Linked DNA regions of Homo sapiens: regions 1 and 3 are each linked to region 2. Evidence: fine-mapped expression QTL. A gene starts in region 2. Each other region holds a variant in brackets. All regions are shown on one strand. Distances are between the middles of the regions.

Region 1 (2,710 bases), 84 kb before region 2:
GTAAGTTGTTTTATGGGGTTTTGTTTTTTGAATAACTAGTGAAAGAAATCAAAGATCTAAATAAGTAGAGACATACCATGCCCACAGGTTGGAAGCTTCAACATAGTAAACATATCAATTCTCCCCAAACTGATCCTAGGTTGTTGTTTTTTTTCTTCAACCTTTGGGAGCACAGAACGTTATCTTAGGTTTAATGCAATTCCTATAAGAATCCCACTAAGACTTTTAGTAGACATAAACAAGCTTATTCTAAATGTATATAGAAAGGCATGGGCCCCAGAACAGTTTAAACAATCTTGACAAAGAATAAACTGAGGGCCAGGTGCAGTGGCTCACGCCTGTAATCCCAGCATTTTGGGAGGCTGAGGGGGGGCGGATCACAAGGTCAGGAGATCGAGACCATCCTGGCTAACACAGTGAAAACCCGGCTCTACTAAAAAAAAAAAAAAAATACAAAACATTAGTGGGGCGAGGTAGCAGGCGCCTGCAGTCCCAGCTACTTGGGAGGCTGAGGCAGGAGAATGGTGTGAACCCGGGAGGCGGAGCTTGCAGTGAGCTGAGATCACACCACTGCACTCCAGCCTGGGCGACAGAGCGAGACTCTGTTTCCCAAAAAAAAAAAAAAAAAAAAAATCAGCCAGACATGGTGGCACATACCTGTAATCCCAGCTACTTGGGAGGCTGAGGCACGAGAATCGCTTGAACCCAGAAGGGAGAGGTTGCAGTGAGCCGAGAGCGCACCACTGCATTCCAGCCTGAGCAACAGTAAGACTGTCTCAAAAAAAAAAAAACAAAAAAAAAAAAATTAGCTGGGCATAGTGGCGTGCACCTGTAGTCCCAGCTACTCAGAAGGCTGAGGAGAAGGGATCTCGAGCCCAGGAGTTCGAGGTTGTGGTGAGCTATGATTGCACCACTGCACTCCAGACTGGTGACAGTGAGACCTTTTCCCAAAAAAATAAAAATAAAAAATAAAACAATTAACCTCTGGTGATCCAAGTCAGAACATCGGTTACCTCTGGAGGGTACTGATTGGGAAAGACACAAGGGAGCCTTCTGAAAATGTTCCATACCTTGGTGGTACTTACACGGGTGTACACATTGAACTGTACAATTAAGACGGGTTCACTCTACTGTATATAAATGATATCTTAATAAAAAGTTTTTAAAAATAATAAATATGGCTGGGCACGGTGGCTCACGCCTGTAATCCCAGCACTTTGGGAGGCCGAGGCAGGTGGATCACGAGGTCAGGAAATCGAGACCATCCTGGCTAACACGGTGAAACCCCGTCTCTACTAAAAATACAAAGAATCAACCGGGCGTAGTGGCACGCGCCTGTAGTCCCAGCTTGAGAGGCTGAGGCAGGAGAATGGCATGAACCCAGGAGGCGGAGCTTGCAGTGAGCGGAGATCGTGCCACTGCACTCCAGCTCAGGACAGAACGAGACTCTGTCTCAAAAATAATAATAATAATAATAAATATTTGATGAGTGAATATTTCAATAAATCCTAAGAAACCAGAATATATCATTATGAGGAAACACAGGTTCAGAAAAG[T/C]AACTTGCCCAAACACAGTAGGCACTTGCACTTTTGTCTCCTGACATGAAAACTGGACTCCAATTTCCATGACTTATATCTCCTCTAACTAAAACTGCTGCTTGATACAGGATACGCACCTATAAATATTTGCTGAGTGAATAAAGAGCACAAAGTGTATATTTAAATTATTAAATGCTATATATGCATTTAACGCACAGGATAAAATTAAAGGTAAAAAAAATTAAAGTGCCACGAAGCACTTTATCAACTAATTACAATGAGCTTATTTCTATAATTTTAAAAAATAGGTAAATGCATACCCACACACACACACATATAAACACACACCCTTGATATTTTATATCCCAGTTTATACTCAGTCTCAATTTGAGACAGGTGTGTAACAACAGAATTCAAACATACTTTGAGTAGTAATTGTAATATAAAAGGATATGGCTGAAAAAAGTTGTATGGAGGATATAAAACTTAAGGTAGGCCGGGCGCGGTGGTTCACGCCTGTAATCCCAGCACTCTGGGAGGCCGAGGCAGGCAGATCACGAGGACAGGAGTTCAAGACCAGCCTGACCAACAGGGTGAAACCCCGTCTCTACTAAAAATACAAAAATTACCCGGGCATGGTGGTGCGCGCCTGTGATCCCAGCTACTCAGGAGGCTGAGGCAGGAGAATCACTTGAACCCGGGAAGCAGAGATTGCAGTGAGCCAAGACTGCGCCACTGCACTCCAGCTTGGGCGACAGAATGAGACTCTGTCTCAAAAACAAACAAACAAACAAACAAACAAAAAACTTAAGGTAATCCTTAAATCTAAGAGTATAGCATGAGTAGTACTTGGCAGCAGAGATGAGTATGGGGGAAGACTGGAGAAGCGTAATGCACTGGGAAAACCTCTCACACAGAGTAGTTTCCATCCTATTTAAATGTTTCCTGTACCGTGTGTGCACGTGTATTGTTACTGAGACAAGGCCTCACTCTGTGATGGAGTGCAGTGGCATGATAATAGCTCACTGCAGCCTCGACTTCCCAGGATCAGGCAATTCTCCCACCAGAGCCTCCTGGGCAGCTGGGACTACAGACATGTGCCAACAAGCCCAGCTAATTTTTTGTATTTTTTGTAGAGACTGGGTTTCACCACGTTATCCAAGCTGGTCTTG
Region 2 (2,759 bases):
TTGCCTGCGTAACAATGAGAAAGGAAGTTGCTTCTTAAGACAGGGTCTACACTAGCTAGAGGGGACAACCAGGACCTGAGCCTCAGACAGGGTCTCGCTCCATAGCCTGTTGCCCAGGCTACAGTGCAGTGGAGCGATCACGGCTCACTGCTGCCTCGACTTCCTGGGCTCAAGCAATCCTCTGGCCTCAGCCTCCCAAGTAGCTGGGACCACAGGTGCACCCAGCCCATTTCCCTTCCTCTCAAGGTGCCTTAAGAGAAGGAGAAGGCTTGAGATTCAGGTGAGGGATGGGCAGAGATCAGAGGCTGCCTGGCCTCCTGGTTTGGCCACAGTCTAGATGCTCAGGAGAGAAGTGCTTACAGGTGAGGCAAACATGAGCCAGGTGGGCACGGAGCTATCTGGGAGCACCTACTGTATGCCAGACACTTGAACTCTAATGGTGAGGTCTGAGGACACAGTTCCTCTACTGAAAAATAGAGACAGGGCAACTATGTTGCCAGGGCTGGCCTCACACTCCTGAATTCAAGCTGTCCTCCTACCTCAGTCTCCTAGTAACTAGAACTACAGGCACCCGTCATTGTGCCCGGCCATTCCACAGCTATTTACATAATTAACTGTTCAGTTACAATTCTGGCAAGCGTGCTGAAGAAATAACAGGTCCTAAATAATTACAGCTAGTATTACAAAGCAAGCGCTGCATGCCAGGCTTACACATACTGCTAACATGTCTACTTTTTGCAACAACCTCTTGTGGGTGAGACTATCATTTGCCTGTTTTACTGAAAGGACAGTGAAGACTGAGGCCTTGTGTGATGGTGCTGAGAGCTGGGCCTATGACGTCCAGCCCTGTAGTCTGTGCTCTGAACCACTTCACCCTGTTTCTTTCTCCATCCTCACAGTAGAGACGTCATCTAAGAGGAGCTTGCAAGTCCAGAGGGCTTCCTGAAGGAAGTGAGCTGAGAATAATATGAAATTAACCAGACCAAGGGCCATTCCAGGAAGAGAGAATGGTACGTGAAACTGCCCAGGAGTAGCAGGGTGGGAGCCAGGAGGCGTGGGTCATGGCAATCTATGTATAAAGAGCTATGGGAATCTATAGGAAAATTTAAGGGAGTGGCTGACACAGTCAGATTTGTGTTGTAAGTATCACTCCGCAGGTTGCGCAGGGAACAAATGAGGGAGCAGAAGGAAGGGGTTCTCCTATCCGCTGCACGGCACTGCGCAGAAGACAGGGGAGCCAGGCATTCCCTGAAGGGTGAAAAGCAAGGAGTAGAGCTGGGTAGTAGACTAGAATTTAGGAGCCTGGCCTGGGGCCTGGGTGGGGCGAAAGAGGCGGAGCCTGAATGGGGTGTGTATAGGGGGGTTGCGTGTAGGGGTGTGTGTATAGGCTGGGGCGGGGTCCCGGGAGTGGGCTGACTGGGTCGGGGGCGGGGCTCTCCAGGTGGGCGGGGATCTTGGCCACCCCTGGCCACACCTCTCTCCGGCTCGAGCTGGTCTAGGCGGGGCGGGCCCGAGGGGGTGTGGCAGGAGGTGGGCGGGCCCGGGTGGGGGGGGGGGGGGCGTGGAAGGAGGGGCGGGCCCGAGCAGGAGGGGGCGGGCCCGAGGGGCGGGGTGGGACAGGAGGTGGGCCGCTCGCGGCCACGCCGCCGTCGCGGGTACATTCCTCGCTCCCGGCCGAGGAGCGCTCGGGCTGTCTGCGGACCCTGCCGCGTGCAGGGGTCGCGGCCGGCTGGAGCTGGGAGTGAGGCGGCGGAGGAGCCAGGTGAGGAGGAGCCAGGTGAGCAGGACCCTGTGCTGGGCGCGGAGTCACGCAGGCTCGAGGTGAGCCGGAACCCTTGTGGGCCCGGGCTGCGCTCCCAGCCGCCAGGGGGCGAGAGGCGGCGGGGCTACGGGGACTGCCCCTCCCGGCGCAGGGGACCTGGGCGTCCGCCGGGCGGCAGGGGGTGGAGGGGGCGGTAAATCAGTAACCCGCAGTGCACACAGGGCCTTTTGTCCCGCTCCGTCCAAAGAGCACCCCGGCCGCGGAGCTGGTTACTCATTGCCCACCGAGGCGGGGGCAGGCTGGCCCTGTGCAGCTACCCTCGGGACCCATTGATTCGCACCTCCCCCCAGGCTGGCCCGGCAAGGGTGGGGGAGGACAAGCGCGCTTGTCCCTGCGGCTGTCTTCGCGCCGGCGGCAGAGATGAGGGACCTGAGGCCCCGAAAAGTTCAGTCACTTAGTGCCCGGGGGCCTCCAGCGCGAGTGCGGGAGGCTGAAGGAGAACCCAGGACTGTCTGATGCCTAAGGCAGGCCCTCCATTCCCACGTGGGGGGTGGTCGGTCAGCGGTCAGCAGCCATGGGTGACTCGACTAAGGACTCTGATATCAGGGCAGCCTGGGGTAGGAATAAACTCCCCGGGCCTCCCCACCCACTCCCAGCCCAAGCTGTGTACCCAAAGAGCTGCCCTCCCTGCCAAGCCGAGCTTGGTAGGGAGTTTTACCAAGGAGGATCCGACTGGATTCGAGAGTTGAGGTGGGCCAGAGACAGCAGTATCTGAGTCAGGTAGAGAAGAGCAATGAGGGGCACAGAGGGATGGGCAAGAGAGCACATGTGCCCAGTTTTGAAAGCCAATGGCTTCAGCGCTCCTGAAGGGGCAGACGGTGTGACCAAAGAGATAGGCAGCGGCAGAGAGGGAGCCCTAGGATGTTGAGCTGGATCCTGCTGGGCACAGGTAGCCATTAAGGGCTTGCAAGCTGGGGGGCATGACATGGCAGACTTG
Region 3 (2,759 bases), 35 kb before region 2:
GTCCTCTTTTCTCTCTACTCAGCCTATAATATGCAATGTAGCCTAAAAGGCATCCCTAGTATGGTTACCTTTTCTGAATGACCTTGTATGAGCTCCAGGAACTCAAGCCTCAATTTCTGTATCTGTGCATTTGTTCCCAGCTCTGCAACTGTATTACTTTAAGGATGAGAATAAAACTCCCAAACTTCGTGTCCCACTTGCTGTGAAGTTCTGGGAAGTACTGAGGTATCCCTGCAAGAGTGCAAGTGTGCATCTCTAGTCTATTGTAACTTGGCAGCCTGACAGGAGAAGCTCAGGGCCTCCTAAGAATATGAGAACCACCAGGATTTGTGGGCTTAAAGTAGTTAAAGCCGCTGAATGAAATAGCCAGTCTTTGGGCTCCCTCAAATCTTCCCAGGTTTCCCAATTAGAGAATGCATTCACCTGTGTGACTCACACAGGCAGTGCCACATCTGCAGTAGGATTAACTGGTGTCACAGCCCTTTCTATTCAGCATACTCAAAAGCCTGACACCTTCTGGGTTTTTTCATTGTTTCTGTTTGAACTCTCTCACTGCAGCTCTGTCAAAACGCCTTACAAATCCTTTCCTTGTGGCCTCCACCTTAGCCTTGCACCAGAATAGAGAGATGATAGACCCAGACAAGTTCTGCAGCCTCTGCCATGCAACTTTCAACGACCCTGTCATGGCTCAACAACATTATGTGGGCAAGAAACACAGAAAACAGGAGACCAAGCTCAAACTAATGGCACGCTATGGGCGGCTGGCGGACCCTGCTGTCACTGACTTTCCAGGTGAGGGGGCCTAGCTCACACCCAGAGCTGGACCAGGGTTTGGCCACTGGGGCTACCCGGACCAGCTGACGTTGTGCTTTTCCTCCTTAGGTCTTGTAAGTAGGGTTTGCGAACTCAGATGGCTACAGAAGCCAGATGAGAAATTAAAATGAGAGCCAGGAAGGGGATATGGTCAGCTGAAGAGTGAATGCCATTCCTACTCAGCTGTTACCATATCTTTCAGGTTTTCTTTTCTTTTTTTTTTTTTTTTTTTTTTGAGACAGAGTCTTGCTCTGTCACCCAGGCTGGAGTGCAGTGGCGCGATCTCGGCTTACTGCAAGCTCCACCTCCCAGGTTCATGCCATCCTTCTGCCTCAGCCTCCTGAGTAGCTGGGACTACAGGTGCCTGACACCATGCCCAGCTAATTTTTTTGTATTTTTAGTAGAGACGGGGTTTCACCATGTTAGCCAGGATGGTCTCGATCTCCTGACCTTGTGATCCGCCCACCTCGGCCTCCCAAAGTGCTAGAATTACAGGCGTGAGCCACCGCGCCCAGCCCTCTTTCAGGTTTTCAAAAGACTCTGGAAAGCCAGATTTATATAGAAATCC[C/T]TCTGTTTTTGTTTTTGCGTTTGTGTTTTTTGAGATGGAGTCTCCCTCTGTCACCCAGGCTGGAGTGCAGCGGCGCAATCTCAGCTCACTGCAGCCTCCACCTCCTGGGTTCAAGCGATTTTCCTGCCTCAGCCTCCCGAGTAGCTGGGGCTACAGGCACACACCACCACGCCCGGCTAATTTTTGTATTTTTAGTAGAGACAAGGTTTCACCATGTTGGGCAGGATGGTCTCGATTTCCTGACCTCGTGATCCGTCCGCCTCGGCCTCCCAAAGTGCTGAGATTACAGGCGTGAGCCACTGCACCCGGCCCCTCTGATTTTTAAATGTGTAACTAAATTAAAAAATTTTTAAGCCCAGCCAGGCATAGTGGCTTATGCTGTAATCCAAACACTTTGGGATGCCAAGGTAGGAGGATCACTTGAGCCTAAGAGTTCAAGACCAGCCTGGCCAACATGGTGAGATCCCATCTCTACTAAAAATTTTAAATATTAGCTGGGCATGTGGCGCATGTCTGTAGTCCCAGCACCTTGGGAAGGCTGAGGTGGGAGGATAACTTGAGCCCAGGAGGTCAAGGCTAAAGTGAGATATGATTGTGCCACTGTATTCCAACCTGAGTGAGAGCGAGAACATGTATCAAAAAAACAATTTTTTTTTTTTTTTGAGACAGTCTCACTCTGTCTCCCAGGCTGGAGTACAATGACACCATCTCACCTCACTGCAACGTCTGCCTCCTGTGTTCAAGCGATTCTTATGCCTCAGCCTCCTGAGTAGCTGGGATTACAGTTATGTGCCACCCCACATGGCTAATTTCCGGCTAATTTTTTTTGTATTTTTAGTAGAGACAAGAGTTTCACCGTGTTGGCCAGGTTGGTCTCGAACTCCTGACCTCAAGTGATCCACCCGCCATGACCTCCCAAAGTGGTGGGATTAGAGGCATTAGCCACCAAGCCCAGCCAAAAAAAAAAAAAACTATTTTTAAACCCTGTGTAAGTCAGACCTGTCTGCAAGCCAGATTTGGGCCAAGGACCCTTAGCGGATTAGATCAGAATCTCATGTTCTGATAGTTCTTACTTTGTACCTCCACAAAGGTGAACCCCTGAGAGAGAAAAGGTTGCTTCCTATCAGCAGAATTTAGACCCCTACATTAAAGTTTTGCCTCCCCCATTCTTTGGTTGTGGTTATGTTAAGGAGATACTGGTACTAAGAAAAACTACTAAAACTACACGTACACATGGTCCCCAACTTCCTATGGTTCAGCTTTATGATTTTTTTCAACTTTACGATGGTGTGAAAGCAATAGATGTTGAGTAGAAACTGTACTTCTCTTGCACTGCTAGGCAGCAATTGGTAATAAGTTTATCTAGATGTAACCCCAT

Alleles and levels. Alleles are on the strand shown, and positions count from the first base shown. SD is a standard deviation of normalised expression in the study named. Not every link is listed here.
With allele T in place of C in region 3, the expression in cerebellar hemisphere of the gene that starts at base 1,659 in region 2 is higher (large effect, 1.0 SD a copy in GTEx).

The links.
Region 1: its variant is fine-mapped to the expression of FGFR4 in whole blood (INTERVAL, PIP 0.92).
Region 3: its variant is fine-mapped to the expression of FGFR4 in cerebellar hemisphere (GTEx, PIP 0.91).

The regions. Positions count from the first base shown.
Region 1 is chr5:177,001,341-177,004,050 of GRCh38, forward strand. All of the region lies in intron 1 of UIMC1 (ubiquitin interaction motif containing 1), which reads right to left. Among named protein-coding and RNA genes, the nearest start is that of UIMC1, 4.1 kb to the right of the region's middle. The variant T/C (reference allele first, on the strand shown) is at 1,557.
Region 2 is chr5:177,085,257-177,088,015 of GRCh38, forward strand. It overlaps FGFR4 (fibroblast growth factor receptor 4), which reads left to right and starts at 1,659. Exons shown (of 18, transcript NM_213647.3): 1 at 1,659-1,821. RefSeq lists silencers at 1,270-1,319, 1,570-2,029, a promoter at 1,540-1,759 and an enhancer at 1,725-2,175.
Region 3 is chr5:177,050,145-177,052,903 of GRCh38, forward strand. ZNF346 (zinc finger protein 346) reads left to right here. Exons shown (of 7, transcript NM_012279.4): 5 at 607-792. Among named protein-coding and RNA genes, the nearest start is that of ZNF346, 29 kb to the left of the region's middle. The variant C/T (reference allele first, on the strand shown) is at 1,382.